Regions from separate parts of the Homo sapiens genome. Here all the other regions are linked to region 1. The links come from fine-mapping of genetic effects on gene expression. A gene starts in region 1. Each other region holds a variant in brackets. All regions are shown on one strand. Distances are between the middles of the regions. Region 1 holds the start of RXYLT1 (ribitol xylosyltransferase 1). Region 2 overlaps RXYLT1 (ribitol xylosyltransferase 1). Region 3 has its middle 37 kb from the start of RXYLT1.

The links. PIP is the estimated chance that this variant, and not a neighbour inherited with it, causes the effect.
Region 2: its variant is fine-mapped to the expression of RXYLT1 in blood mononuclear cells (TOPMed, PIP above 0.99). The same link has a PIP of 0.9 or more in caudate and whole blood.
Region 3: its variant is fine-mapped to the expression of RXYLT1 in coronary artery (GTEx, PIP above 0.99). The same link has a PIP of 0.9 or more in tibial artery.

The regions. Positions count from the first base shown.
Region 1 is chr12:63,773,318-63,784,079 of GRCh38, forward strand. It overlaps RXYLT1 (ribitol xylosyltransferase 1), which reads left to right and starts at 6,592. Exons shown (of 6, transcript NM_014254.3): 1 at 6,592-6,812; 2 at 7,702-7,857. The coding sequence starts at 6,644. RefSeq lists silencers at 6,411-6,640, 6,657-6,932, 6,661-6,960.
Region 2 is chr12:63,802,700-63,813,461 of GRCh38, forward strand. RXYLT1 (ribitol xylosyltransferase 1) reads left to right here. Exons shown (of 6, transcript NM_014254.3): 5 at 2,535-2,705; 6 at 5,976-6,863. The coding sequence ends at 6,393. RXYLT1-AS1 (RXYLT1 antisense RNA 1) reads right to left here. Exons shown (of 4, transcript NR_126167.1): 3 at 9,508-9,608; 4 at 6,146-6,241. Among named protein-coding and RNA genes, the nearest start is that of RXYLT1-AS1, 14 kb to the right of the region's middle. The variant C/G (reference allele first, on the strand shown) is at 6,411.
Region 3 is chr12:63,737,033-63,747,794 of GRCh38, forward strand. No RefSeq gene overlaps it. Among named protein-coding and RNA genes, the nearest start is that of RXYLT1, 37 kb to the right of the region's middle. The variant C/T (reference allele first, on the strand shown) is at 5,330.

The sequences.
Region 1 (10,762 bases):
AAGGAAGGAAGGAAGGAAAGAAACATAGGCGTGATTGATTAAATTATTGACCATTGATCAACTTTACCTTCAGCCCCTCCCTCCTTTGTGGAGGTTATGGGGTGGAGAAGAAAGTTCCAACCTTCTATTCCTGCCTTGGTCTTTCCAGTGACCAGCACCTAACCTGAAGCTACCCAAGGGGCTACCAGCCACCAGTCATCTCATTAGCATTCAAAAAGACACTTATTCCAAGGATTTTAGTTGTATGCCAAGAAACTGGAGGTGGAAAATCAAACATACATGTCACAATATCACAGGAGACAAGTGAAGAATTTACTTCATTCAAAACTTTAATGTAGCGTAAAATAGATTTGTTTTATTTAAATCACTGGTATTTTGAGTCTCTGCTACACATAGCCAATCCTATTATAGAAAATCCAATAAAAGATATGCAAACTGTATGGATAAAATTATAAAGCTGTATTGAAAGACATTAAGTTGGACCTAAATACTACCTTACCATCCATTTCCTTCTGTGACTTACTTTTGTCAATTAATGTAATTTTTTTTCACATTTTTCTATTGACGTGCAAATTGGGAGCTGTGCCCTGGAGGATGTCACACACGGGAACAAGGAGACAAACACAATGGGGTTCCCTGTAGCATTGCTTGTATAAAATTAAATCAGGCACAGTTTTAGTGTCCATAAATAGAATTAAAAATTCAATATTATATAAAAAGTCAATTATTCCCCAAGTTATCCTATAAATGCAATAAAATGCTAATTACCATTCATGAGTGTTTTTTAGTAAAACTCGACAAGCTAATTCTAAAATGTACAGGGAAATAGGAATAGCCAAGACAATTTTAAAAAGTAAAATAAAAGAGCAAATTGGAGAGATTGTCCTTCCAAATATGAAGACTTATAAAGCTATAGTAACTAAGATAGTATGAAATTGAGACAAGAAAGGCAGAGAAGTCAGAGCTAGACTACACATACAAGAAAGCCTCATGTTGACAGATGAGGCACTGCTGAGCAGTCATTAAAGGACGGCCTATCAATAATTGGTACTGGGATAATTTGTAATACATTTGGGTGGAATAACTCAATATTGTAACTTGATTCTACCCAAATTATTCTATAAATTTAATCCAATTTTAATTAAGATTCTAATAGGAATATGCAGGCATATTTTTCTTAAAGAATACACATATGCACACACACACCCATATATGCATACACACCCCCCCAAACTGTAAAGGAAAAGACTGATAAATTTAGCTATGTTAAAATTTAAAATGTCTTTACAATAAAAGTAAATATAAATAAAATATGGTGGGGTGTGATGGTTCACGCCTGTAATCCCAGCACTTTGGGAGGCCAAGGTGGGTGGAGCTCAGGAGTTTGAGACCAGCCTGGCCAACATGGTGAAACTCCATCTCTACTAAATATACAAAAATTAGTCTGGTGTGGTGGCACACACCTGCAATCCCAGCTACTTGGGAGGCTGAGGCAGGACAATCACTTGAACCTGGGAGGCACAGATTGCATTGAGCTGAGACTGCACCACTGCACTCCTGCCTAGATGACAGAGCAAGACTCTGTCCAAAAAAATAAAAAATAAAAATAAGAAAAAATAAAAATATGTATACAAATAAAATAGACTAGCCAAAAATTGGAAGAATATACTTAATGTACATAAACAAATGATTGCTGTATAAAGTAAATAGAAATTCTACAATCAATAGTAAAAGATAAGCAACAAATAAAAAACTATACAAAACATAAAAACTGAGGATAAAAACAAAAAAACAATAAATATATTAAAAGATACTCAACCTCATTATTAACCAGGGAAATGAAAATTACAATAATAAAAGTCCATTGCAGCCATCATATTGGTAAAAATTTTAAGGACTGATCTAACAAAATGTTTACTACTTGGTCATTAAAATATCACATACACTCTCTCCTATAATCTCTACTGGATCAAATAAAAAATCTAAATAGCAAAGAGTAAAAATATTGCACTTTCAGGATGCAGTGGTAAATTAATCAGTTTCTATGATTTCATTATTAAGAAGAAATGATAAAATGTTAAACCAACTGTCCAATTAATAAAGTTAGAGAAAAGATCAAACAAACAGGAAAACAGAAAAAACAAAATAATGAAAAATAATGCACAATCTAGTAACTGCCACATAGACAAACAAAACTGATAAATCCAAAGATAGTTGGAAGGAGAGGGGAAAACCAATAATAAAATCATACAATCAATTATAAAAGCTGAAAATTTCACTATAAAAAAGAAAAACTCAAAAGAATAAAATTAGGAATGAAAGAAGGGATATATCTGAATGCTTTTTAATCCTAATGAGGTAAACTGGCTTCTTAGTAAATAAAAATTGCCAAAACAGACTTAAGTATTAATATTACAAGCAAGAATAAACCAAACGAGTGTTATTAAAGAACTATCTCAAAAAATAGTTCTAGGGCCAATGAATATTACTGAAAAGTGCAGTCAGACTTTTACAGACAGTATTTTCCATGCTATATAAACTGTTCAAGGACTGAAATGCTATCCAACCCATTTGAGACAGCTAGCAATAATCCTGATATAAAATAAACATGGCAGAGTTTGTAAAAATAAAGATAAATCTCAGATTATTAAAGGTGCATTATTAATCAGATGTGTCTATTCTACTGGAAAAGAATAAATCTATCTGGGTGAGTTAAGTGAGTTAATAGAAATAAGAATGCATGAAGTTGATGGATTCACGGGAATATGTATAAGCCATCAAGACCTTGTGATGAAAAGTCAAAATTAGGAGAGGGAATACATCAAATATTTACATTCTTGCAACCACAAAAAATGAAGTGAGCAAAAAGCACAGAAAGACATCACTAAATGAGACTAAAAGAGGTTGAAAGGGCAATAACAAATGCTGGAGAAGATATGGAGAAAAGGGAACCCTTGTACACTGTTGGTGGAAATGTAAATTAGTACCACCACTATGGAGAACAGTTTGGAGGTTCCTCAAAAAATTAAAAATAGAGCTACCATGGGAGTCAGCAATCCCACTCCTAGGTATATACTCAAAAGAAAGGAAATCAGTATATTGAAGAGATATCTGCACTCCCATGTTTATTGCAACACTATTCACAATAGCCAAGATTTGGAAGCAACCTAAATGTTCATCAACAGATGAATGGATAAAGAAAATGTGGTACATATACACCACAGAGTGCTATCCAGCCATAAAAAAAGAATGAGAGCTTGCATTTTGCAACAACATGGATGAAAATGAAGGTCATTATGTTAAGTAAAGTAAGCCAAGTACAGAAAGACCAACTTTGCATGTTCTCACTTATTTGTGGGAGCTGCAAATTAAAGCAATTGAGACCAGGCACAGTGGCTCACGCCTGTAATCCCAGCACTTTGAAAGGCCAAGGCAAGCTGATCAGTTGAGCCCAGGATCTCAAGACCCACCTGGGCAACATAATGAGAGCCTGTCTCTACTTTAAAAAATAAATAAATAAAACAATTGAACTCATGGAGATAGAAAGTAGAAGGATGGCTACTAAAAGCTGTGAAGAGTAGTGGGGGCAGGTGGGGGAGGAGAGTGGGGATGGTTAATGCAGACAAAAAACAGTAAGAAAGAATGAATAAGACCTAGTCTTTGCTAGCACAACAGGGTGACTATAGTCAAAAATAATTTAATTGTACATTTTAAAATAACTAAAAGAGTATAATTGCATTGTTTGTAACACGAAGGATGAATGCTTCAGTGGATGTATGCTCTATTTACTCTGATGGGATTATTACACATTGCATGCCTATATCAAAATAATCTCATGTAACCCATAAATATATACACCTACGATGTACTCACAAAATTTTTTTTTAATTTTTAAGAGGTTGAAATGCATTTATATCACTCCTGGGGCCTTTCAGTAGCCTCCTACCCCAAGTTGATGATAATAATATCATTAGAAAAACAGCATATGCAAATGAAGTCAGTGGTAAATGAGAGATGGAGTCACATGGGTTCAAGCTGTCTTGAATCACTCTCTGAGACTATCACCATGGTGGCACCCACTCATAAGGGCTTTTAGTAGAACAGAGTCCATAGACAACTATCACACTAGTTAAGGCTGGTGGATCATATGGAATACATAAACAAAATTGGTGATGAAATGTTACACCAATGATGAAACTGTGCATAGGGTTTAGAGGGTGTGGGGAAGGGGAAATAGGAGAGGGAAAGATTTACAGAGGAAGTGATGTTTGCACAGAATCTGTTTCTGCTCATCTGCTTCAATTTCACCTCAGAGTTGTTCTGTCTTTAACCTTCATCCTAGTTTCTGTTTGGTTGGTTATTAGTATGTTGTTTGATTGATTGTTTAAAGAAGGCGTTATAATTTGCTTACTATTTCCCAATGCCAATATATTTCTGTAGAGTTTTATTACTTATTTTTGTGAGCATTGTACTCACATGAAAAAGAAAAATGTATCTTCTTAGGACTGATTCTTACAAATTTGAAATAGCTATAGTTTATAACTTACATGGCCAAGCCCTGCTAGAAGTATCTTGCAAAGGGTTTGACACAGAAGCTTGGCCAAGCTGTGAAAAATCTCTCAAAGTAGTTAACACACTTCTTGAGTATTACTGGAAACTTGATAAACTAAGAAGAGAATTTTGACCAGGTATCACAAGAAATTTGTACTGGGGACTTCTAAGAATAAGCGTGTACTATTTCACAGTCAACTAGAAGAAGGCATTAGGACATTAGGGCTATTTTCTCAATATCTTGTTGATTAATAGTTCTTCCCTTTGCAGACAGAGTAGAAAATTTCACCAAGTAAAGATTTTAGCCCTGCTTTAGTTTAATTCATCTCATATTCCTTTATTTCTATTCTTCCTCCCACATCTTTCCTTCTCAGGTCTGGTTCCCTATATGCGGAGCTTCAACCCCCAGAGGATATTTAACCTTGTCTCCCCCTCCACACTGCTGCATTCCCCACCACATCTCTTTCCCTCTCTTTCCATCCACCTGAAGAGATGAGAGCATATACAGAAAGTAGCTCCCAGCTGTAGCTCAACCATTAAACACCAAGAGAAAGGAAAATGAACTCTGCCAGACTTAGATCAATTAGAAGATTCCTTTGTAACCTAAATACATTTTTAAAAGCTTATCATCAAATTATGCAGTCATTTGCAGTTTGAGGTAAAACAACTCCTTCATTTTCATGGCCCTCTCCCCTATTCAAGATGACATCAACTGCATATTAGTTTTACCTTGTATGCATTTCTCAATAGTAAAACCATTAGTCAGTAGCATCTGAATGTACATTGATACAGTGGGTGTTTTGTGGTAATTATAAGGTAATTACTTCCTATCCTTAAATAATTGTCATTTCCACAAACAAACAAAATAGGATAAACAACAATACAGCATACATAAAACAACTGCCATCTCCCTAAGACACCAGAATAGCCTGTTAATCAAGGAAAGCTAAATTTATTAAATCTACTACAGTAAGGGAGGCCACACTTTGACAGAAGCTTGGCAGTCTCAGAAGGAGAAGGTTGGGGGTGATATTTATAGGATTTGGGGAGTCTGAGCAAAAATGGTTTAAAACAGGTCTTTTGAGGCAGGGAACTGTTTGGGGGATTGGGTAAAGTGTTTGACCTAATAGTTTAGGGTCGGTGCTAGAGTGACCAATTTTACTGATTTCCTAGGACTTTCTCAATTTTAGCACTAAAAATCCTCCAACTGGAGAATCCTTACAGTCCTGGGCAAACTGGGACCATTGGTCACCCTAATTAGCAGACATACCGTCGCAAGACTGCTGGGTAATTTGAACAGTAGTACCAGAGCAACTGACAAAACATTGTAGCCCATCTTCCCAAGGCTGGATACAAAGTTTTCTGAAGCATTCACATTTACAGCCTCTATTTGACAAAATACTGCATGCCTATGTGCGTTCAACTCACATAATAATGAAACTTAACTTTAAAAATGTTTTTATTGCAGTAAGGTATATAAAACATGAATTCGACAGTTTAACTATTTCTATGCATACAAGTGAGTGGTATTAATTACATTCACAATGTTAAGCGACCATCATCACTTAATTTTTTTAAAGGACGTTTATATTCACTCATCTATCAACGTAGTAGGCACTGTCCTAGGCGCTAGGGATTCCATGCAGAGCAAAAAACGTCACAGTCCATGCCTTCACATGGCCTTCATGGACCACCGCGGGTGTTCTTTTTCCCCCGAGTCTTTATGTACTTGGGAAAAGTGGCCAGGGTTGAAAGGTGCAATGAGTACACGGCAGAGGTCAGAGAGGTTCCCACTCAGCCCGGCGTCTGGAAGCAGCGTGGGGTAGGGGCCGCTCCAGTACCCCCTCCTCCAGTGTCGAAGGTGGGCAGGCCCTCGGCCGGGTGGATGAGCCGCGACTGGAGGGGGCGGGGCCTGGGCGGGAGGCGGGCGGTGGGCGTGTCCGGGGCGGGGCTGTACCGGGCGCTGGGCGGAGGAGCCTTGGCTGGGGACTGCCTGGAAACGGGCTGGGCCTGCCTCGGACGCCGCCGGTGTCGCGGATTCTCTTTCCGCCCGCTCCATGGCGGTGGATGCCTGACTGGAAGCCCGAGTGGGATGCGGCTGACGCGGAAGCGGCTCTGCTCGTTTCTTATCGCCCTGTACTGCCTATTCTCCCTCTACGCTGCCTACCACGTCTTCTTCGGGCGCCGCCGCCAGGCGCCGGCCGGGTCCCCGCGGGGCCTCAGGAAGGGGGCGGCCCCCGCGCGGGAGAGACGCGGCCGAGGTAGGACTGGGTCGGCGGCTTCCTTCCGGCTCTGCGCTCCTGGCTGGGGCTGCTGGGCGGCTGGGGCCGGGTCCCCGCACCCGGCTCTCAAGTCCGGGATTACCCGCAGGGCCTGAGAAGCGCTTTGCCCCCTACAGCCTCTCGAGCCAGCCCTTGGCTCGGAATTGGAGAATGGTCCTCATTCTTACCCAGATCTCACACGCCGTCCCCGCTCCCGATCCCAGGGGGTGACAGGCGCGCACGCCTTTCAAACACGTGTTAAAATCCAAGACGTCGTCTCAAATGCCAGAGATTTGCGGGAATGCTCCTGGAAGGCCTCAAAATCGCCGCAAGGTTTAAGACATCCGTTTCCATGTTGAAACAAAGCCCTCTCTAATCCTGCAGTGACCATAAGGCAGACTTTACCTCCAAATTCTGGTCCCCTGTCCTGTGTTTTAACTTGTGTTAAGATCAGACTCGGCTTTCTCTTTCCCTTTATTCAGAATTTTGCACGATAGTATCTAAGACTGGTGAACACTACACTCTGAAGTCAGTTTTTTGTGCATAGGTTACCTGTATACAATGGATAAAAATAATTGCAAAAGTTAAGCTTGTAACTTGATACATATTATCCTGTTATTTTTAAAGGTTTTGTGTTGGGGAAGAGAATTTTCCTGTCTCAAGGTAGCATTTTATTTCTAAGACTTTTCAGAGTAAAAAAAGTTCAGTAAAAAAATTGCTGATTTTCTTTTTTGTTTTCATTGTGTATTACCAGTTTAAATTCAGTTGCTGTACCTCTCAGAAATTAAAGTTAGGATGAAATTAGAACTAACACTTAATTTAAATGATTTGAATTTACCTACAACTGCAATAATACCTTACTGGTAAACACTTACTCTTTTTAAAACAGAACAGTCCACTTTGGAAAGTGAAGAATGGAATCCTTGGGAAGGAGATGAAAAAAATGAGCAACAACACAGATTTAAAACTAGCCTTCAAATATTAGATAAATCCACGAAAGGAAAAACAGATCTCAGTGTACAAATCTGGGGCAAAGCTGCCATTGGTAAGTTAATACGTAGAAGGAAGACATGTAAAAAGCATTATAAAATGTATTTTATTGATATGAAATTCATTTTAATATAATTTATTTCATAATTTGTTAATTAAGGCATCATGATATATTTTTTCGCTTTTTGTCAATAATTCCTTTCTCCTTCCAATTAGACAACATCTGTTTGTAAATGTACACACATACATATTCCACTGTTGGTCTTTAGCAGAGCACAGCTTCATTTATTGATACATTGAGTAGGCTGTATAGTGTCATTAGATTGCAATGCATATGTCAACTGAATTTTCATGAATCTGTGTATTTTTTGGACACTTGATACACAAGTATAAGATGTGGCCCCTGCCCTTGATGGCCAAACACATTTGGGAAACACTGAAGAGTACAAAGTTAAACAAGGTTCTTCATTGCAGGCCTTTCTCAAGAGCCTTTAATATGACAATGTTCATTGTATCAGCGAAGGAATATATTATAGTATGTAGTTGATTAAACTTGATTGACCACAGAAGCATTTTTGCTGTGAATATCATGAGAGTGTAGTGTTCTAAGATATATATTATGCTCAATTAGAGAATGGGGCCCTGAGGGTTTAAAGAGTCACAAAGAATTTAGTGACTTAGAAAGCGCTTTATGTGGCCTTTGAACATGAGTTGGGTTTATGTACAATAAGGCATATGGATAGAAAGTACCAGATGAGAGGAAAATGTACAGAGCATAGTGCTCTGCTCATGGTATTTCATAAATTCGTTCATACTTACATACAAGTATATATCCTAGAAGATTACTACCAACCTCTAAATTTCAAGTACCTGAAACCAGGCCTTCAATCATCAAGTTCTAGCCATTATTTTTTAAATAAAGTCTCTAATATTGATTTCTTCTTTTAAATCTCAGATTTTCATTTCCAGACTTCTCTCTTTTCAATCTGATAAGTGCAAAGTGGCCAAGTGAATTTCATCAAATGCTACCTTTTTTTTTTAACACCTCTGCTAGCAGGAAAAATGCTACTTTGATCAGCCTATTCTCTAGACACAGTTATAAAATACCGTTATAGAAATTCCCATTCAAAAGGGGAGAAAAATTGAAGTAAAAAAGTGTCACTGGTCCAAGCAATTTTGAAATCTAAATTTCATCTAAATGGCCAGCTCCATTAGATGATATTGCAGGCCTAGGAATAATCTATAGGTTGTACAGCTTTGCCCTCTGGCATCTCAGCCACACTCTTGAAGTCATCTTTTCCTTTTTCATAAAAAGTAGCACAAGTTTGCAGCTTCGTAATTTTATCAGCCTGTTGACAGCTGGTAAAATTTTCAGAGCCCATCAGCCTTCTTTCATTGTGACCTCTTGCTGTCTTTTTTAGTCCAAGCTGGCAGCGTTTCTGCTCATAAAACATTCTGAAGAACCTTGTGGGCCCTCTGTGTATGTCACAGGATTCACTCCATTAGATGGGAAGCTCCTCTGCAGATCTTTTCTGAGTAATCCCATCTCCATTTCTGGCTTCTGCTGAGATGGCTGAGGAGACCTGTAAGTCACATGTATAATCTCTTCAAAGAGCCCTTTGTGTGAATGAATATTCAGATCTTCTGATCCTTCTGAGGCACTAGCAAAAGGTTGTGCAGCCACATCCTTGGTCTTGTTTCTGGAACACCCTTTTCAGGCAGCAAATCTAATTTTTCACATCTTTTGCAATCTTAATGGTCCGAGAATTTCCCAAATCATCAAATTCTGGTTCCCTTTTGCTTAACAGTTTTTCCTTCTATCTCTTTTTTCTTATATTTCACTAATCACCAAGAAACCAGTCCACACCTTTCACTTTGCTTGGAACCCTCCAGCTAATTATTAAAGTTTATCACAAGTTCTGCTTTCCATGTAACTGCAGGATACAATCCAACTAAGCTTTTTACTGTTATATAACAAGGATCCTCATCCTTCCAGTTTCTAATAACACATTCCTGATTTTCTTCTGAGCCCTCACCAGCAATTTCTTTAATACGCATATTCTAGGCATGGCGTCTCACGCCCGTAATCCCAGCACTTTGGGAGGCTGAGGCCGGTGGATCACTTGAGGCCAGGAGTTCAAGACCAGCCTGGCCATCATGGTGAAACCCCGTCTGTACCAAAAATACAAAAATTAGCCAGACATTGTGGCACGTGCCTGTAATCCCAGCTACTCAGGAGGCTGAGGCAGGAGAATTGCTTGAACCCGGGAGGTGGAGGTTGCAGTGAGCCGAGATCATGCCACCTTACTCCAGCCTGGGCGACAGAGCGAGACTCTGTCTCAAAAAAAAAAAACATTGCATATTCTTACCAACAATCTGCTTGTGATCATTTAGATATCCTCTAAGACAATACAGGTTTTCTCTACTCTACCTCACTTTCTTGAGTCTTCACTAGCTGAGTCATTAACATCCATATTTCTATCTGCAGGTTATTCAAGGCAATCTAATCTAGGCTTTTTAAAATCATGTCCTCACAGTTCTCTCAGCCTTTCCCCATTACCCAATTTCAGAGACACTTCCACATTTTTAAGTATTTGTTACAGTAGCACCTCATTTCCAGGTACCATAATCTTAACTGTATAATCCATAGCATCCTATTGCAGCCATAACAAATTACCACAAATGCAGTATCCTACCTTTCTGAAGGCAGAACTCTAAAATGTGTGGGGTCTGTGTTACTTTTTGAGGCTCTAGAGGAGAACCTGTTTCCTTACCGTTTAGAGTTTCTAGCGGCTACCCGTATTCCTTCATTTATGGCCCCACATCACTCTGACCTCTGCTTCTATCTTTATATATCCCTTGCCTCACTCTGACACTCCTGCCTCCCTTGTGTGAGGACTCTTGAGATTACATAGGGCCCACCTAGATAATCTATAATAATCTCTTCACCTCAGCATCCT
Region 2 (10,762 bases), 29 kb after region 1:
AGAAATGGCAGATAGATTTTTTTAAAAACAATGATAGTATCTATATATAGTAAAAAAAGGCAATATTATTATATCAGGAATATACCGTACCATTGTGTTTGAGACTGGCTGAATTTATACAAATCTCTTCTATAAAAGGAGGGATTAATTAAATGATAGCTAAGGTTTCTCAAGATACAGTCTTTTAGGCCAGGCGCAGTGGCTTACTGCCTGTAATCCCAGCACTTTGGGAGGCCAACTAGGCAGATTGCTCGAGTCCAGGAGTTCAAGAGCATCCTGGGCAACATGGCAAAACCCTATCTCTAAAAAAAAAAAAAATCAAAAATTATCCGGGCATGGTGACATGGACTCCTGTATGGCGCCTCTAGTCCTAGCTACTCATGAGGTTGAGGTGGGAGGATCACTTAAGCCCAGGAGATTGAGCTGAGATTGTACCACTGCACTCTAGCCTGGGCAACAGAGTGAGATGAGACTGTCTCACCAAAAAAAAAAAAAAAAAAAAAAAAAAAAAAGATATAGTCTTTCTCCAGCTATAAAATGGAAAACATATATTTTTATCTTTCTGTTAATAGGATGTTTTTAATTAAGAGCAAGTTGACTTTAAGATAAGTTGCCACTAGTATATAAACCTCCTGAGAGCAGGGATTTTTGTCTCTTTTGTTCACTGTTCTATCCACAGAGCCTAAAACAGCACCTGCAGAGTAGGTATTCTGTATTTGTTGAGTGGATAAATTATGAAAAATCTCACTGACATGATTTTTGAATCATACATTCATTATTCATCATTCTGTCCCTGGTTGCGGGATGTGGCCTTAGACTGCTGCCTAGTTAGCGACACAGATGTCACTGGCACATCTGTGCCAGTAATGAGATGTATTCCCAAGCCTACTCCTATAACACCCTAACTCAGTAGGTTTGGGGTAAGGCCAGACAAAAAGGTTCTTGTTAAGTAAAGCCAGGTTTAAGACCCTCTTAAAAATCTATTTTTTGAGCAGAGCCTGCATTTGTAAAATGTTTTCATATAGTATAAGATGGAACCTCTTGGTAATCATGATGTTGTTGCACTAGGCCAGTATATTTCTTATATAGGTCTGTGGTTCTCAACCAGGGGCAATTTTGCCCACCGGGAGGCATTTGGCAGTGTCTGGAGACTTTTTTTTTTTTTTTTTTTTGAGACGAAGTCTTGCTCTGTCACCCCAGCTGGAGTTCAGTGGCACGATCTTGGCTCTCTGCAACCTCTGCCTCCCAGGTTCTAGCCATTCTCCTGCCTCAGCCTCCCAAGTAGCTGGGATTACAGGTGGGCATCACCACTCCTGGCTAATTTTGTATTTTTTATAGAGAGGGGGTTTCGCCATGTTGGCCAGGCTGGTCTCAAATTCCTGACCTCAAGTGATCTGCCTGCCTTGGACTCCCACAGTGCTGAGATTATAGGCATGAGCCACTGTGCCTGGCCTGGAGACGTTTTTGATTGTCACAACTGGAGGAAAGAGGTTGTCACAACTGGTATCTAGCAGATAGAGCCCAGGGATACAGCTGAACACCCCACAATGTATAGGACAGCCTCCACAAGAAAAAATTAACCCAAAATGTCAGTAATGCTGAGGCTAAGAAACCCTGTTATATACAAACTGTTAGGTAAAATTTTGTTCTCGTGTGAAAGTTACATTTCAGGTACACAGTTTAATCCCTGGTATTTCCAAATGCTCATAAAAATAGGTAACTTTTCCTGTATGGCATACCATGGTTTTATCTGTCAGTTTGTTTTAATCTACTTGAAAAGCCCTTGGGATTAATTTTTCAGAGCCCTTTGCAATAGCAAAATATATAATCTTTCCTTTTTTTTAATTGACAAATAGTAATGGTATATGATAATGGGGTACAAATGATGTTTTGAAATATATTTACAACGTAGAATGCTTAAATCAGACTAACAAATCCGTAACCTTATATACTTAACAATTTTTGTGGTAAAAACATAACATCTGCTGTTTTAGCAATTTTGAAATATACAGTGCATTATTATTTATTATAGTCACCCTATTCTGTGTGATAGATCACTAAAGCTTATTCCTCCTGTCCAACTGAAACTTCATACCCTTCGATCAACATCTTCCTTTTCCCCATCCATCTCCCTCCCCTGGAGTATTCTGTAATCTTTTCATCACCTGGTTAAAATGTTGCTTAAATCGTGATCATTATGAATAGAGAAGAGTCTTTATACTTTGAAGGTTTTGAATGTAACATGCCTAACAGCTGCAGATGAGTAATGCAAGTTAAAGAATGTCAAAAACAAATAACTTTAGGCACAACATCTCTGTAACACTTTTGTAAGAGATGTCAGTGTGAAATTCAATTTTTTTAAGTCAGTAGATTCAGGGAGTTTTCCAAAGTATTCATGGAAAATTACAATTTGAGATTTAGAAATCACATTTTAAACCTCTTCTGTATACTTCTTGCTACCTAAGAGATTGGGTTATGGGGAATTTTTGCCAATTCTATATCATATGTTAATTCATGTGTATTTATTTTTATAGATACAGGAATTTTCCTGTGGTGGAGGCAAGTTGGTCAATGCTGCATGATGAGAGGCCATATTTATGTAATTTCTTAGGAACGATTTATGAAAATTCATCCAGACAGGCACTAATGAACATTTTGAAAAAAGATGGGAACGATAAGCTTTGTTGGGTTTCAGCAAGAGAACAGTAAGTTCTATGCTTATTTAATTCATTCATTTTGTTCTCCAGTCTGAGAGTTGCTTTATGTAGAAACACAGGTTTCCAAAGAGGCATTGTTAACTCTATTTGTACCAATCTTTCCCCAGAAGATACATTAGTAATTAAAACTGTGAAAAGACTGGGTTGTACACATTTAGAATAGAGAGAACCGCCTATGACTGTAGTCCATCTTGAAGAGGAACACTGGTAACTGTCATTTGCAAATTTCAGTTGTTAGGGTTTCCTCAATAATATTTGTTAGTCACACAGGAGATTATAGATGCTAATGAGATACTTAGGTTCATCACTGAGATGTTGTGCAGTGGACCAATTCAGTGTTCCAAGACCGGTGTGCAGGTCTCACAAATTCAGGAATTCAGGAACCTGACACCATCTTCAGGACATGGACCTTGTATTCTTCTGTGAATCCCCAGATCTAACATAGGACCTTGCACAAAGTAGACCTAGGATAAATGGTGAGTGGATGAATGGTTGGATAGGGAGACTCAATAGGGTTAAATGTCTTCTTTTATGTAGTAACCAGGAAACAGGTGTTCATGTTGTGAAGGAAGTAAATTTGCAATCATTTATTTTGTTTTTAAATAGACAAATCAAGTTTTCAAATAAACAAAGCATAATGCAGAGTCATCAGGGAAGTAATGCCTTAAAAATGTCCAGTTAGGTCTGGAATTTTACTTTTTAAATTATAGCAGGTACTCTTTATTGCTAATGTAACCATATCATATTCGTTCAGTCAGTGTTTACCAAGCAATTGCTCTATGCCAGAAACTTGTTTACCCACAGTAAATACAGCAGTGAACAAAACAAAGTCCATGCCCTCCTGGCACTTAAATGCTTGTTGGAGTAGACAAGCAAGTAAAATATATTGTGTGTCAGAAGATGATAAATGCCCTGTAAAAAATTAAGCAGAAGAATGGCATAGAAAGAGCTTGGGTGTTGGTGGTGGAGCATTTGCTATTTTGGAATAGCCAAGAAAGGCATTCATTAGAAGGTTACATTTATGCACAGGCCTTAAGAATGTGCATGGGTGAGTCTTGTGTATATTTGGGAGAAGACTATTCCAGACGTAGGGAAGAGCAAAGGCCCTGAGGCAGGCAGGAATGTGCTTACTATGTTACAGGAACAACAGGGCCAGTATGTCTGGAGTGGAATGAATGAGGACAGTGTAAAATAACAAAGGTTATTATGGGAATAATTCTTGTAACTCCTCTCATACCATTGAGCCAGAGGTTTGAGTAGATGTTTTCCTTGTTTCTCATTGTTGCTTCTAGACTATTCTCCCCTTTCCCTCCCTAATAATCCCAATTTTGAAACTCATGTCAGCAGACAAAACCATCCATCACCCTTACTCTCTGAAATCATGCACTTACCCTTGGGTTTCTCCCCCTACTTCTTCGAAGAGTTTAGCTCCTGGTACTCTCTAGCTCTGTCTGACACTACTCTGTTCTCAATTCTTAGTGACTGGCAAATCTACATAGATGGTCTTTCTGTCATTTTGGTCTTTGCAGTTCCTTCACCTCCCCTCCTCCAATAATCTGGGCTTCCACCTGACCTCAGCCATTCTCTCTCATGGTTATTTCCTAGACTTTGTCATTACACATACTGCACCTTCTGAACATGATCTCAAGTCCCAGCATCTCTTTCTACAACCACCATCATCTGTCATTCCAGCTCATTCCGTGTAATAATCTGACTCTGACAATTCAGCTGGCACTTAGAATCTATTGTTCCTACTACCCTTTTGTTGTCCTTCACTCCCCTTTCTTCATTTTATTCTTCACCTAACTTAAATTTCATTGTCAATCATAATTGCCTATACCTTCAGCTCCCTAATTCCCTAATCTGGCAAACCATAACTCTGGTTAAATCCAGCTCTCTGCCTACTCCATGCCTGCACCCATGCAACTACACATAATTGGAGAAAGGTGCTAATTGACCTTTATTTAAACACGTGACTTTGAACCTCAGGTGCCCAGCAGTCTTATATTTCCCTTGTCCATATATTCTCCCACTCTCCTAGAAGGCTGTTTTATACCTTCTTCTCTCCTACACTCTAACACCTCCGCCTTTCTTACTTTATGACCCTATTGCTTATTTCACTGAGAATAGTCAGGAGAAAGCATCTATCTTTTTTTTTTTCTTTTGAGACTGAGTTTCACTCTTATTGCCCAGGCTGTAGTGCAGTGACAGGATCTCGGCTCACTGCAACCTCTACCTCCCAGGTTCAAGCGATTCTTCTGCCTCAGCCTCCCGTGTAGTTGGGATTACAGGTGCACGCCATCACGCCCGGCTAATTATTGTATTTAGTAGAGACGGGGTTTTACCTTGTTGGCCAGGTTGGTCTCGAACTCCTGACCTCAGGTGATCCACCCGCCTTGGCCTCATGAAGTGCTGGGATTACAGGCGTGAGCCACCGCACCCAGCCGCGTCTATCTTTCTTTACTGATCTTTCAGTTTCTACCCTTGCCCCTGTACAGTCCATTCTCAACACAATAGCCAGATTGATTCTGATGAAACCTACATCACGTCATGTCACCCCATGATCAAAAGCCTGCATGATAGAGTCCCGTGTGACCATTCAGACTTTATCTTCTGCGCCTGTTCCCTCAGTTACCCTACCTCAGCCACCCTGGCTTCCCCGCAGCTCCTTGAACATGCCAGGCACATGCTGTCTCATGGCCTTCACTCTTGCTTGCTCTTTTATCCCGCCAGATCTACGTGGCTTGCTCCTTCATCCCCAACTCTGTGCTCAGATGCTGCCGCAGTAAGACAGTCCCTCATCACTTATTTAAGATTGCAACCCTACCCCCTTAGAAACTCCTGCTCTACTTACTCCTTTGCTCTTTTCTCACAGTATTCTACCCCATCTAAATAATTTACTGACTTCACTTGGTCACTATCCATCTCCACCACTAGAACTAGAATATATGCTCCATGAGGGCAAGGTAGGGAAGAGAGGACCTAGCACTCCCAAAGTATCGGTTGAATTATTATTATCCATTCAGAAGTGTTACGGTGACTCCTAGATTTTATAAATGTACAACTGTAAAATGTTCCAATTCTTCAACATTTTTAAGAAATCTGTTTGGGCCAGGATTTTGGATATCTCTTATGCCTATCATCTCTATAAAGTTTCACCATTTCCTGAAACTGATTTTATTAAAAGATAAGGTATTTTTGTTCACAAACTATATACTTAGTAAAGTGAAAACTACAGTTGTTTTTCTGATTTTCTAGCTGGCAGCCTCAGGAAACAAATGAAAGTCTTAAGAATTACCAAGATGCCTTGCTTCAGAGTGATCTCACATTGTGCCCGGTCGGAGTAAACACAGAATGCTATCGAATCTATGAGGCTTGCTCCTATGGCTCCATTCCTGTGGTGGAAGACGTGATGACAGCTGGCAACTGTGGGAATACATCTGTGCACCACGGTGCTCCTCTGCAGTTACTCAAGTCCATGGGTGCTCCCTTTATCTTTATCAAGAACTGGAAGGAACTCCCTGCTGTTTTAGAAAAAGAGAAAACTATAATTTTACAAGAAAAAATTGAAAGAAGAAAAATGTTACTTCAGTGGTATCAGCACTTCAAGACAGAGCTTAAAATGAAATTTACTAATATTTTAGAAAGCTCATTTTTAATGAATAATAAAAGTTAATTATCTTTTTGAGCTAA[C/G]ATGTGATTTTTAAAATCATTTTGACTACTGGGTGTATAAATGTGTTTGTGTGTGTATGTATTTATAGATGTTCTTTAAGGTACCCTTGAAAACTCTACATTATGTATGCCACATAATGACATTTCAGTCAGTGGTAGACTACATATATGATAGTGGTCCCATAAGATTATAATGGAGCTGAAAAATTTCTATCGCCTAGTGATGTCATAGCCTAGTGATGACATATGTATTGCAATACATCACTCACGTGTTTGTGGTGATACTGGTGTAAACAAATCTATTGCACTGCCAGTCAAGTAAAAGTACAGCAATTATGTCCTGTACATAATATTTAATAATGACAATAAATGACTATGTTACTGGTTTATGTATTTACTATACTATACTTTTTACAATTTGTATTAGTTCTTGCATTGCTATGAATAAATGCCTGAGATTGAGTAATTTATAAAGAAGAGAGGTTTAATTGGCTCACAGTTCAACAGACTGTACGGGAAGCATGAAAACTTCAGGAAACTTAACAATCCTGGCAGAAAGCGAAGGGGAAGCAGACATGTCTTCACGTGGCCAGAGCAGAGGGAAAAGGGGGTGGGTGCTACACACTTTTAAACAACCAGATCTCACAAGCACTCACTACCAGGAAAGCAGCACCATAGGGGAAATCCACCTCCATGACCCAATCTCCTCCCACCAGGCCCTGCCTCCAACACTGGGGATTACAATTCAACATGAGGTTTGGGTGAGGCACAGATCCAAACCATATCATCATTATTTTCGAGTGTACTACTTGTACTTATTAAAAAAAAAAAAAAAGTTAAACAGCCTCAGGCAGATCCTTCAGGAGGTATCCAGAAGAAGAAGGCATTGCTATCAGGAGATGGCAGCTCCATGCCTATTATTGCCCCTGAAGGCCTTGTGGTGGGGTGAGATGTGGAGGTGGAAGACAGTGATGTTAATGATTCTTACTCTGTCTAGGCTTAGGCTAATGCGGTTGTGTCTTCATTTTTAACAAAAAGTAAGAAAATAAAAGTAACAAATTTTTTAAATTTTTAAATAGACTAAAGTTTATAAAATAAGGATATAAAAAATATTTTTGTACAGCAGTATAATGTTTTCAGCAGTGTTATTATAAAATAATCAAAAGGTTTAAAAAGTTATAAAGTAAAAATTTACAGTAAGCTAACATTAATTTATTCGTCAAGAAAGAAAAATATTTTCTTTTTTCTTTTTCTTTTTTTTTTTTTTTTTGAGACGAAGTTGTTCTTATTGCCCAGGCTGGAGTGCAGTGCCATGATCTCGGCTCACCGCAACCTCTGCCTCCCAGGTTCAAGCGATTCTCCTGCTTCAGCCTCCCAGGTAGCTGGGATAGCAGGCACCTGCCACCACGCCCAGCTAATTTTTTATATTTTTAGTAAAGACGGGGTTTCATCATGTTGGCCAGGCTGGTCTTGAACTCTTAACCTCAGGTGATCCATCTGCCTTGGCCTCCCAAAGTGGTGGGATTACAGGTGTGAGCTATCGCACTCAGCCAGAAAAATATTTTTTTATAAATTTAGTGTAGGTTAAATATACAGGGTTTATAAAGTCTACAGTAGTTTACAGTAATGTCCTAGGTCTTCACATTCACTCACCACTCACTCATTCACTCAGAGCAACTTCCAGGCCTGCAAGCTCCATTCATAAAAGCTCTACACAGATGTGCCATTTTAATATTTTATATCATATTTTTACTGTACCTTTTCTATGTTTAACTACACAAATACTTACATTTGTGTTACAATTGCCTATGGTATTCAGTACAGTGAAGTGCTATACATATAGGTTTGCATCCTAGGAGCCATAGCCTAGGTGTGTAGTAGGCTGTACTATTCAGGTTTGCATAAGTACACTCTATGATGTTTGCATGACAAAACCATGTAAGGATGTGTTTCTAAGGACATACCCCTGTCATTAAGCCATGCATGGCTATAGTTCTTTAGTATCTTCAGAAAGAATTAGAGTCCCGCTTGCTGTAAGTTGTCTGGCATATGACTTGGCATCTTCAGTGTGTCACAGGCCCTCAAATGGCTCTTTTAGCCCCACCTAGATGTCTTTTGGGCACTTAAACCACATAACTACAACTGTATTCGTTATTGTCTTTTTCCACAATATACACACACAAACCTATTTCCTCTCAAACATTTTTAATTTCAGTAAATGGTTTCATTAGCTGTTTCCCAAGCTACAATCTGTAACATCATATTTATTCCTCCCTATTCCGCCAATTAATCACCAAATTATGTGCCTTTTACCCCCAAGTCTTCCTAGAATAAGGCCTCTCCCTCCATCCCCACCACCTCTCCCTCATTTGCAGATTTTGTCTTGTCTCAGAGGGACAACCACAATAGTGTGTCTTCCCTGCCTCTCCAACTCTCAGCACTGCCTTAGTTTCATGGGTGCAAGTTAATCATTTCCAATTTCAACAAACTTTAAATCTGAAATGTCAAGTTCATTGAAGGAAAAATGCCATGAAGGAATAATAATAGGTCAGCCTCGGTGGCTTGTGCCTTGTAATGCTGGAGTTTTGAGAGGCCAGTGCAGGAAGATCACTTAAGGACAGGAGATCAAGACCAGCCTGGGTCACGTAGTGAGACCCATCTTTACAAAAAAACTTTAAATTAGTGAAGGGTTGTGGCATGCAGCTGTAGTTCCAGCTACCTGGGGGGCTGAAGCAGCAATGAGCTATGATCACACCACCGCACTCCAGCCTGGATGACAGAGTGAGATCCCGTATGAAAAAGGAAGAGGAAGAGGAAGAAGAAGAGGAGGAAGAGGAAGAGGGAGAAGGAGGAGAAGGAGAAGAGGAAGAAGAAAAGGAAGAAGAGGAGGAAGGAGGGGGAGGGGGGAGGAGAAGGAGGAAGACAAGGAGAGGAAGAGGAAGAGGAGGAAGAAGAAGAAGGAGGGGAAGGAGAGGAAGGAGAAGGAGAAGGAGACACACACACACATATTCCTAAAATAGAAATACTATCAGGTCACAATCAATTAAAGGCATCTGTGGCATTTTGTTGCCTATATCTTAAAATTACCTTTTTTTTTCTTTTTGAGACAGATACTCACTTTTTCGCCCAAGCTGGAGTACAGTAGTGGTGCAATCTTGGCTCACTGCAACCTCTACCTCCTGGGTTCAAGCAATTCTCCTGCCTCAGCCTCCTGAGTACCTGGGATTACAGGCATGCACCACCACGCCCGGATAATTTTGTATTTTTAGTAGAGATGGAGTTTTTACCACGTTGGCCAGGCTGGTCTCAAACTCCTGACCTCAAGTGATCCACCTGCCTTAGCCTCCCAAAGTGCTGGGATTACAGGCATGGGCCACTGCACCCAGCTAAAATTAACATTTTATAAATTGTTATTCCAAGATCCTTCACAATCTGACTCCAACCTATTTCTCCAGCCTTGTCTTCTTCTACCCCTCAACAAGTGCTCGAGTTTTCCCTCATTATCTGTTCAGTAAACATGCTCTCTTGGGTATACTTTTATATAAGCTTTTTTCTCTTTCTGAAAAAAAATGTGTCATTCATACCACGATTTCAGTAGCTAAATAACATTCATTTCATTCAGTTACTAGATATATTTCTTTGTTAGTTTACCTCCTTCCACTGTAATATAAAACTCTAGCAGAAAAGGAGCTTTGAACATTTTTTTCACCTTTATCATGTATAAGCCACAGTAATTTTGAGTCTCTAACAAAGTAATGGAATCTATAGCATAACAAATACATCTAAACATATTTTTTGAGATATTATATTCTAAAAGTATGTTTTAATCAGCATGGTGCCAGGAAGGTGTATCTACACTGTGAGTGAATTCTTATTTCACGACAGAGACTATGTTTTGTCCTAGAGGGAAAGAATGAATCAAACAACTCTCCCTTTTGATTATTTGTAACAATGAAGCTGAAGAACTTAAACAGCACCCTTGCTTTTCTTTAACACTCATACACTTAAATTGATGAAATCGGCCAGGCATGGTGACTCCCGCCTATAATCCCAGCAGTTTTAGAGGCCAAGGCGGGCAGATCACTTGAGCCCAGGAGTTTAAGACCAGCCTGGGCAACATGGTGAAACCTAGCTCTACAAAAATACTAAAGTTAACTGGGCATGGTGGCATATGCCCGCAGTCCCAACTACTCAGGAGGCTAAGATGGGAGGATCACTTGAGCCCAAGAGGTCGAGGCTGCAGTGAGCCATGATCACGCCACTGCACTTCACCCTAGGCAACAGAACAAGATCCTGTCTGAAAAAAATAAATTAATTAATAAATTCATGAAATCTTGTACTGTTTTTCAAATTTATATTTTATTTAGGCAATT
Region 3 (10,762 bases), 36 kb before region 1:
TAACCAAGGAAAATTTGAAAGATAGGGAGAGGGAGAGAAAGTGATACAGGAGCTAGAAAGAAATTATTAAGGCAGATAGTGAGGGAAAGAGAGTCCTTGGCAAGGTTTCTCTTTTAATGCAAAAGCAACCCCCAAATCATTTCTTTTCTAACAAAGAGCAGCCTGAAAAATCAAGCTGCAAGCATAGAAAAGCAAGCTAGAAGCTCGCACGGGTGAATGCTGGCAGCTGTGCCAACAGGAAAAGGCTACAATGGGAGCCAGGCATGTTCAACATGGAGGCTGCATCTTCCCTTTTGTCAACCACGTGTACAGTAAAGAAGCAGGCAACATGGCATTAGCCAGGTAGGGAACCCATTTGTATAATAAAAGATTAGGGTGGGGCGGCCAGTTTCTTCGTGTGCTATGCAAACAGCACACCTGGTCCGACCAATATCTCAGGCCCTATGTAAAGCAGACACCGCATCCTCAAGCTCGTCTATAAAACCCCGTGCATTTCACCACAAAACTGGAAGACCCACTCGGAAACCCATCTCTCTCTGCAGGAGACAGAGCTTTTCTCTTTTCTCTTTCTTTCACCTATTAAGCCTCTTCTCTTAAACTCACTCCTTGTGTTTGTCAGCGTCTTCGATTTCCTTGGCATTAGACAATGAACCTCAAGTTTTATCCCACACAAACGATGCCATTTCAAAAGGACAAAGGTTCTTTTCTTCAGGGTCATGGCACAAGAGATAGAGCCCCACTACCACCCCTCCTCACTTACACCCTAAGAGTCTCTCCCAGGTGCTCACAAGGCAGAGAACAGGTAGGAGCGGTGCCCACTCAGACCCCAAAGTGGAGAGGTCACAGAAGCTGCTCCACTTGGGGCAGTTCGCTGACTGCTTTCATCCCCGCTGTGGCTGCAGCTGGACTCCATTCCAGCCCCAAGGGAATGTTTTGCTTCAGAGACTTCTCATCTGCATTCCCTTGCCTGAAATACTCTTTCCTCAGATTCCTCAGCCTCCAAGTCTTTGCTTAAATATCACAATCTTGTTGATTTAGGCCTCCTCTGAGCCCCCTATTTCAAAATGTCAGTCCCTTACCGTATTTCCTCCTTGTCTCTCTTTCCTACTTTATTTTTCACCATAGCACTTACCGTCATCTGCCCCGGATGTCTTCCAGCCCCAGCCCCATATTCACTTGCCACCGTCTCAGCCCTGCCACGTGTACCAGGAGGCTGACCGGATGCTCTCCATCAACAAGCTCTGCTGTCCTTCCGCTTCCTGTCGGGTTTGACCAATAAAAGGCAGCAGAACGAGATCCAAGGAGGGAAGAGAAAGAGGTTGGGAATTTATTCTCCCAGCTCCGCTCCTGCCAAGTCCCGGTGTGTTAGCTGCCTCCCTCTTTTTTTTTTTTTTTTTTTTTTTTGAGATGGAGCCTTGCTCTGTCGCCCAGGCTGGAGGCGGTGGCGTGATCTCGGCTCACTGCAACCTCTGCCTTCCGGGTTCAAGTGATTCTCCTACCTCAGCCTCCTGAGTAGCTGGGACTACAGGCGCGTGCCACCATGCCCAGCTAATTATTTTTGTGCCTTTTTTTTTTTTTTTTTAGCAGAGACGGGGTTTCACCATGCTGGCCAGGCTGGTCTTGAACTCCTGACCTCAGGTGATCCATCTGCCTTGGACTCCCAAAGTTCTAGGATTACAGGTGTAAGCCACCATGGCCAGCTGGTTGCCTCCCTTTTGTGAGGACCACACTCCCTATCAAGCAGCTCTCTCCCTTCAGCTCCCTTCTCTGAGTAACTTCTCCCTCTCCTTACTTTCAGGTGTTAAGAGCTCCTCCCTGTTACTAGCTCCAGGGCATAGCATATCCCTTGTGCTTTAAGCACTGTTTTATTAATTACTAACCTTTATTAAGCTCTTTATTAACTACATTAAGTTAATTAGACTCTTCTCACCATTTTGACAATGACCTTTACTTTCCAAACTGCTGCATCATCTGGCATCTTACGTATTTTACTTAATTACTTGTTTTCTCCCTCCGCTAAAACATAGGCTTCATGAAGTCAAGATTTGTCCCTTTTGCATACTACTGTATTCCCAGCACCTACGAGAGAACAGGGAACATAGTAGGAGATGCGAAAGAAGCACTGGATAAATAACTGAATCATGAGTGAACGTATGACTTAGGAAGGGACATAGAAAGTCTAACTCCCCATCTTCTCTGTATGCTGGATCTCTGCCTTTTCAGATGGTGTCTTCTGTTTCTTTCCTTCCTCTGTTTTGTTACTCTTTTAATTTTTAATTTTTGTAGGTACATAGGTGTACATATTTATGGGGTACATGAGATATTTTGACACAGGCATGCAATGTGTAATAATCACATCAGGGAAATGGAGTACTCATCCCCTGAAGCATTTATCCTTTGTGTTACAATCCAGTTTTACTCTTTTATTTTTAAATGTACAATAAATTATTATTGACTATAGTCACCCTGTTGTGCTATCGAATGCTAGATCTTCTTCATTCTAATAATATTTTGTACGCTTTTTCAAAATTTTGGTTAGTGTGGATAACAAATATTTCTCTGGGCATTATTTCAGCTCCCAATTTATACTTAACATTTTTACATAACATCATCTGGCAACATTTTAGAGAATTCACATATATAAACCCATGTAATTATAATCTGGCATCACTTCCTACTTCAAAATGTTCATAAATAGCATTGCTGAGGCAGAGGTAGAATCATTTTAAAACAAAACAAAAAAAAGAGCAGTCCAACAGCAAGTGAAAGATCACCACCAAACCTAACTTCATGGACAATAGCAAGCAAACCTGAAGTGTAGGTTCCAATATTCTATTTAGAAATATCAGCTAGAATATAAACCTCATGAGAGAAGGCTTTGTCTGTTTTGTCTGCTGATGTAGTCCAAGCACTAAGAGCAATATCCAGTATATATTTGGTACTCAATAAGTGTTGAATTCATGAATGAATGAACTAATGTCACCCTGAAATAAGGAACTATTTTGAAGTGACAATAGATTAGATAATTGTTTCCAACTCCTTGCTCCCTGTTTGATTTTGGGGTTTTCTTTTCCTTTGGTTTGGTTTTTGTTTGAGACAGAGTCACACTCTGTCATCTAGGCTGAAGTGCAGTGGCACAATCTCAGCTCACTGCAAACTCTGCCTCCCAGGCTCAACCGATTCTCGTGCCTCAGCCTCCAGAGTAGCGAGATTATAGGTGTGTACCACCACGCCCAGCTAATTTCTGTATTTTTAGTAGAGATGGGGTTTCACCATGTTGACCAGGCTGGTTTTGAACTCCTGACCTCAAGTGATCCACCTGCCTCGGCCTCCCAATGTGCTGGGATTACAGGTGTGAGCCACCACGCCCAGCCCCTCTTTGTAATAGAATATCCCACCCCCGCCCTTTGTCGTGTAAGGTGGTCACTATGAAAGGAGTATTTCTCTTCACCTCCTTGATTTTGGGGGTTGGCCATGTGATATTATGACACACGTTGGCCAACAGGATGTGAGCAGAAGTAGCAATGTGCCAATTCTGCACAAAAACTTTAAGCACAATTGCTTGATTCATCACAGCTTGCTGTTCCCATCTTCTGCCATGATAGAACAGCATGTGCAGTGAGAGGTGGCTCTTTCGACCAAGTCCCAAACTAAGAAGAGAAGACACATAGAGCCAGCCCTCAGTCATCTGCAGCCTGAAGCCACATGTATTGTGAAAATAAATACATTTAGCTTGTTTTTCTGCAGCGTTACCACAGCAAAAACTGACTCAATTACTGGTACCTAGAAGTGAGGTGTTGATGGAACAAAAACCATGTAGGTAGGGGAGGGGGCAAGGAAAGTGTTACAGGAAACAGAAAAATGGCAACTCATTATGTCATGACAAAACATTTGGTAAAATGATCACATATATCATTTTCTTGCCTGAGGTAACCTTTTGTGGTAAGGCTGTCAGGCTATTGCAGCCATTTTTATACGAGTGAGCCCTTCGTGATGTCATTTTTAGGGCAACTTGATTTTCTGTCTCTGGAAGTACTATTTCATGAGTATATGCAAAATAGTGATACTATAGTATGTGATTTAGGAACTAGTCTCTCATTTGCATTGGAAGTAGAGATATGATAATCTTCCATCCCATGAAGGCATTTTTAATCCTCACAAAATTCATTGTTGTACCATATCCTAGAACCAATTCAGTGTAACAGGTATTTCCATGGATTTGAAGATACTGAATATATAATTGTCTCTTTAAATTCTCTTTCAGGGTATGTAGTGAATTTTGAGACATTTACTTTTGATTTCTGCCAGATGGTAATGTTTCAGAATATCGCACTGAGGAGCTTGTTAGAACAGTAATATTAGTAAATATAAGATCACAACGGCCTCATATGCCAGCTTTGTCGTGCAGTCTCTTATGGAATTTTCAACATTTTGTCTGCTTCCTTGATTTTCTATCTTCAGCATAAGCTTATTTGAAGATAGAGAAGCTAGCAAGTCACAGTTATTTTCCTCTGCATGTGATGGGATTTTCTTAATCTAATTTTGTCATGAAATATGATACTGTATGAAGGATTTGTTTCAGTCATTTTCCACAAGAAGTTTGTATTTCTGACTCATAACTTTGCTCTCTATGCTTTCTCAATCATCATCCTTGGTAATCTTGTGAGATTTTAGACACCTTGGATTTATATTTCCTAAATCTTTTCAGAACTACTTCAGGTCTTCAAATAGTCACATCTTGGCCTGGAATAAAGATATAGATGTAGATACAGAGACAGGTACAAGTATAGACAGGTACAGGTATATAGATGTGTAAATATCTATATACACATCTATTTTTATTTATATAATTTCTATTTATTTCTTTTTTCCTCTTTTAGCCCCATCCCTATCCCCCTTAACCTATCTCCCCATCCCCTACTCTCCTTTTATTCTCAAACTTTGTAAAGTTTACACAGGCTATTTTTGGGTTTTTTTCACCACTCCTCAATCTCACAACCTGGCTCTTATCCACATATCTGTCATGGAAATGGAGACTTATAAGTTCCTAATCACAAATCCAATGACCTTTGTTGTATGGAAGGGAGGCATGAAACATTTGATGATTTTGGCCACAGACACTGATACGGAGAATGAGGAATCTGGGGCAAACAAGCTTAAGGAACATGAGGTGGAGGAATGGAAACTCAATGTCAAGGCTTAATGACAAAAGGTGAATCCAAGGCAAATCCTACGGTAATAAAAGAAGCAAGAAATAAATGAAGATAAAGTCTAAGTCGAATATTGCTTCAGCTAGCTATTGCTGCATAATATCCAAAAATTTAGTGGC[C/T]TAAAACAATAATTTTATTACTTATGACTCTGTGGGTTAGAAATTCCAGCAGCGATCAGTTGAGGTGGTTCTTCTCCACTCCACATGGTGCTGTCTGAGACCCTCAACTAGGGCTGGAGGGTCCAAGATGGTCTTGCTCATCCATCTGGGGCTTTGGTGCTGGCTGTCAACCTGGATCCATTGTTTCCAGTCTGCATGGTCTCTCTCTTTACAAAGTCTCTTATTCTCTACAGAGAGCTATCAGGACTGGATGCAGACTGGAGTTTAAGTCTAATGGGTAACTAGATGAGGCTTTAGCAGGTAGAGAGAAGGAAAGGAGGTTGGGTATCTTTTGCCTATCGGAGAGACGTGAATTGTTGTGGCCAGAGGACACATTGTAGAAAATTGTCTGTAAAGACGGCCACCAACATGCATGTTGCCTCTCCCATCAAGAGGTAGAACCTATCTTTCTTCCCTTTGAATCTGGGCTCACTTGTGACTTGTTTTGGCCAAGAAAATGTAGCCGCAATACTCAGTGCCAGTTTGGGTCTGTCCTTTTAGAGACCTGGCAGCTTCCATTTTCATTGTGTTAGGATCCAGCCAGCATGGAAGCAAGAGTCGTGCTGTTAAATAATGGATTTCCAGGAGACAGAGAGAAAGAGATCCAGCCAGTCCTCAGCCATTCCAGTCACACTTAGCCTAGGTGCCATGTGAGTGAAGCCGTCTTGAATGTCGCAGCCCCAGCTGAGCTCTCAGCTGAATGCAACAGCATGTGTGACCCCAGCTGATACCACATGGAAGGGAGATGAGATATACCCAGTGAACCCCACCTAATTCCTAACCCACAGAATTATGAACAATAAAATTGTTGTTTTAAGCAGCTGTTTTTCGATACTTTGTGACAAAGAATCAAAGTTACATCAGTCTCTTCTTGGACTCCGGTGTCCTTCCTTATAGAATGCAATTTTAACAAGAATCCTGCCAAGTCCATTTAGCCAGAATTCCCCATCCTCAGTATCTGATCACCTTCGATACCTGATCATTTTCCTCCCCCTCCACCAGCACCCAGGTGATGTCTGATCAGCACTGCCTGCCTTTAGCAAGAATCCTGTTAGGTCAGTTCAGCCAGAATCTTCCCTTACCCCTGATGTTTCCAGTTAGTAATTTTCCACCCACTGAGCCCACCCTGCTTTTTCTAGATAGAAATGTCCACTTTTTTGTTGTTTGAGGTTGAGCACAATGTCTCTCCCCTACTGCAGGACCCCACTGTGCCATCCCTTCACCTACCAAGATGTTCTGAAAAATGTCTGCCTTACTGTGCTTTACCGAGTGTCACGAATAATTTTTTTCTTTGACATTTGTTAGGCAACAACAGATAATTTAAACAGATGTTCTCACTCTAGCCAAATGAACTGGAACTCCTGACAGGGCATCAGTTTGGTGAGAAAATAGAGTGCTAAGCAGAGAAAATGATGCAGAAGTTTACTCACATGGGTTTGGAGGGAATTCAAGGAAGGCTGGTAGCAGTCTTAATTTCTTCCACACTGAGGAATTAACTCTCAGCTAGGATGAAGAAGGAAGATGTCTTTCTAGCAGTTTGAGTCTTTGGTGTGCCCCTGCTTGTGTGCTGTGCTAACTGTGCTGGAATAGTCACTTGTTACACAGTTCTTAGTAAGCAGCAGGCAGATTACCATGAAGCTAATGAAGCTAACGTTCAGGTCCCCTCATTTCCACAGCCCCTTTCAAAACTTTGGAAGAGGTTTTAGCAATGTGTTCACCTAAACAAATACATCCTAAAATTCTGCAAAATGTCATGTTGAGTGGCATGGAAGTTACCACAAGAATTTTGCAGATCCAGTTAAGGGGAAATTAAATTCATCATATATTTAGTTTCTGTTCTAGAGAATATTTGTGTTTGGCAGTCACTGTCTTGCAGAAGCTATTTTTAGTCATTCAGTGTTGGACTGACCTCCAGGAACGCTCCAACCACTCATCATGAAAACTCACCAGCCATTGTAACATGAAGTTGCAGGCCAGAAATAATATCTTGATAGAGGCTTTCCCAAATTTGACAATAATCCTAAAAATGTGTATGACACTACTGATGAGTTGTAAAGCAGAGATAAACGTTTCCAAATGATTAATAAAAAACAAACTTCAATCAGCTATGCTAACTATTAAAATCTTTGTGTTATCTCAATAGTAAACTTTTTGTATGAAAATGCAATCAAAGAACATATAGCCAAAAAAGAAGGAAAAATTATAGAGGTACATTAGGCTCTTAGTTTTCTTAAGATAGCTTGCTACATTCTGTGTTTTTTTTGTGTGTGTAACTTGTTCTTTCATCACTTTAAATATATCTATTTCCACACTAAATTTTGTTTTCTTTCTCTTAAGGAGTTCTACAAAATTGTTTAAACTTTAGGCCTATAAAACTTGAATTGACCCCAATGACATATATTCATTTCTTTAATCCCAACTAGCAAGATGCTTTTATTAATGTCTTCATTTTAAAACTGAGAAAACTATGGGAGGGAGATATTAAGATCACAGAGACGGCCAGTGGTGTAACCTGGATTTAAAGCCAGCAGGTTGGCTTTTGAGCCTGTGTCTTACTCATTCTCCACCCTGCTGCCCTTGAGAATAAATGAAGTCCAGCCCTTTTCCTTAAGGAATGTGCAGTACAATAGTGGACCCTAAAAATTACAGTATATCAAGATATGTGCCAGATTAGTTATACAAGGTACAGAATTAGAAAGGAGAAATTAAATTTCTAGGATAGTAGGGGAGATTTCACAAAGAGATACCTTCTTGGTTACATTAAAGTTTAAATTTGAAATTATATTTAAACTCATGTACCTAAAATCACTGGCTCTGGTCACCAGGCAATGATTTCTAGTATTGAACTACTGTATATATTACCTCATCCCAGATTAAGTTGATTGAACAATAGTTTTCAAAAGCACCACAGAGATTCAAAGAATAAACTAAGGCTTTTGACAATGCTTTAACCCTCCCACCATTCCCACAAACATAACAGGAATGATGATAGAAATGAAAAGACCACAATTCAGAGGTCCATGTGCTTATCCAGGATGATACAAATCTGATGCAAAATTAATATAGGACTAGGTTTTGTTAATCCTAATGTAGTTTTCCATTCAGTGTTCTATATGTCCTAACCAAAACTTGGTTTTGTAGATTAAAATGATGTTTTAACAAGTCTCTCTGGTGGTTTTAGAAGTAGAAACCATGGGCAGGGCATAGTGGCTCATGCCTATAATCCTAGCACTTTGGGAGGCCAAGACTGACTGATCACTTGAGCCCAGGATTTCAAGACCAGCCCAGGAAACATGAAGAAACCCTGTCTCTACAAAAAATAGAAAAATTAGCCGGGCTTTGTGGCACGTGCCTGTAGTTCCACCTATTCAGGAGGCCGAGGTGAGAGGATCACCAGAGCCCAGGAGGTCAAGGCTGCAGTGAGCCGTGATCACACCACTGCACTCCAGCCAGGGTGACAGAGCAAGACTCTGTCTCAAAAAAAAAAAAAAAAAAAAAAAAAAGAGGAGGAAATAGAAACCTTGCTTTATAGGCTAAGGAATTCACCTTAGAATGAATCTCATGCTACAGAAAACAAATCTAGATGTTTTGCTTTAAAAAGGACAGAAAATAAGCTCCATTTTTCTATTAAAAAAAGTGACAAGTGAAGAGAGTTAATTTGATAAGTAACAGTATGATGGGAGAATAAATATAAATAGGATTCATTAGAAAAAAATTAAAATTTAATCAACTTTAATGGGCTCCTGTATAGTCCAAGCAGCTTAAGGCACTAGATTATTTCCTATGAAAAGATCTGAGAATAGGCAGTTCAACAAGTTGGAAATTTAATTTTTGAAATAACATTAAGCAAGGACCAAATATCCATGTTAATCAGTAGCATTTAGTTATAACTGGCTCAGTGATCAGACAATAAATTGCTTTGTAATACTAATTTGTTCGTGAGAAGATGGCATTAAATTTAAAGTAATTGATGGAAACAAACTGCTAAAAGAAAAATTATGAAAGACTCACAAAAAACAAAGGAGAGAGAGTTCTTCTCCAAAAGAACATTATTATGGTTTTCTCTCCTGGGGGTTGCCCTTACCTCATGTATTAGTTTGTTCTCACACTGCTAAAAAAGATATACCCAAAACTGAGTAATTTATAAAGGAAAGACGTTTAATTGACTCACAGTCTCACCTGCCTGGGGAGGCCTCACAATCATGGCAGAAGGCAAAGGAGGAGCAAAAGCACGACTCACGTGGCGGCAGGCAAAAGGGCGTGTGCGGAGGAACTCCTGTTTATAAAACCACCAGATCTCGCGAGACTTATTCACTACCATGAGAACAGTATAGGGGAAACCACCCCCGTGATTCAATTATCTCCACCTGGCCCCAACCTTGACACGTGGGGATTATTACAATTCAAGGTGAGATTCAGGTGTGGACACAGCCAAACCGTATCATCTCAACTCCACCCAGCCAATCTTACTCATTCTTCAAGTTCCAGTTCCAAAGCTAAGACTAATAATCATTCCCTGATGTCATTCTTCTTTTCTGTGCTCCTTCAGTACTGTTGTCTTTTGTTCTGTTTAATTTTGTTTGTATTTATCGCCCTCGCAATACTATGTGCCTTTAGTATATAACCGTGTGATACAGAGCGGAAAGGAATCCTCAATATCCTTTGGTTTAATGTTTTAGTAGCAGGGTCTAGCTGAGTCCAGGCTGTAAAACAGGATTAGGGTAGGATTAAGGTAGGACTATTTGGCTGGTGGTGCTAGGAACAGAGTGAATTTTTAAAAATTGAACAATTTCAAAATTTTTATTTCTCAGTGATTAGCTTTAAATTTACATTCCTATGCACATGGAGTTATGTCAGGAAACTCTTGTTTGTACCACCTCTTTCTGGCAGCCTGCAGGAAATGAAGTAGCATCATGGGCAGCATGTTAATCATTGATGATGAATGTGGCCTGGGATGAATTTGATTACAGGATTGCTGTGTACCATGTGACATGAGGGGCTCATAATAGGCTTAAAGATGATAAAAATATTTTTTGTTCTCTTAAATATCATAGAAATAACTGGAAACATTAATAGAAATACAGTTGGCTCTCCATATCCATAGGTTCCCCATCAGTAGATTCAACCAACCATGGATCAAAAATATTTAGGGGGAAAAAACTTCACAAAGTTCCAAAAGGCAAAATTTGAATTTGCCACACACTGAGGACTATGTTGAATCCACATGAATGAGGAGATGTGTACGCATTATATAAGTAATCTAGAGATTATTTAAAGTGTACAGGAGGATGTGTGTGGGTTATCTGCAAATACTATACCACTTTATATAAGAGGCTTGAGCATCTGTGGATTTTGTTATCTGCAGGTGGTGCTAGAGCCAGTCTCTCATGGATA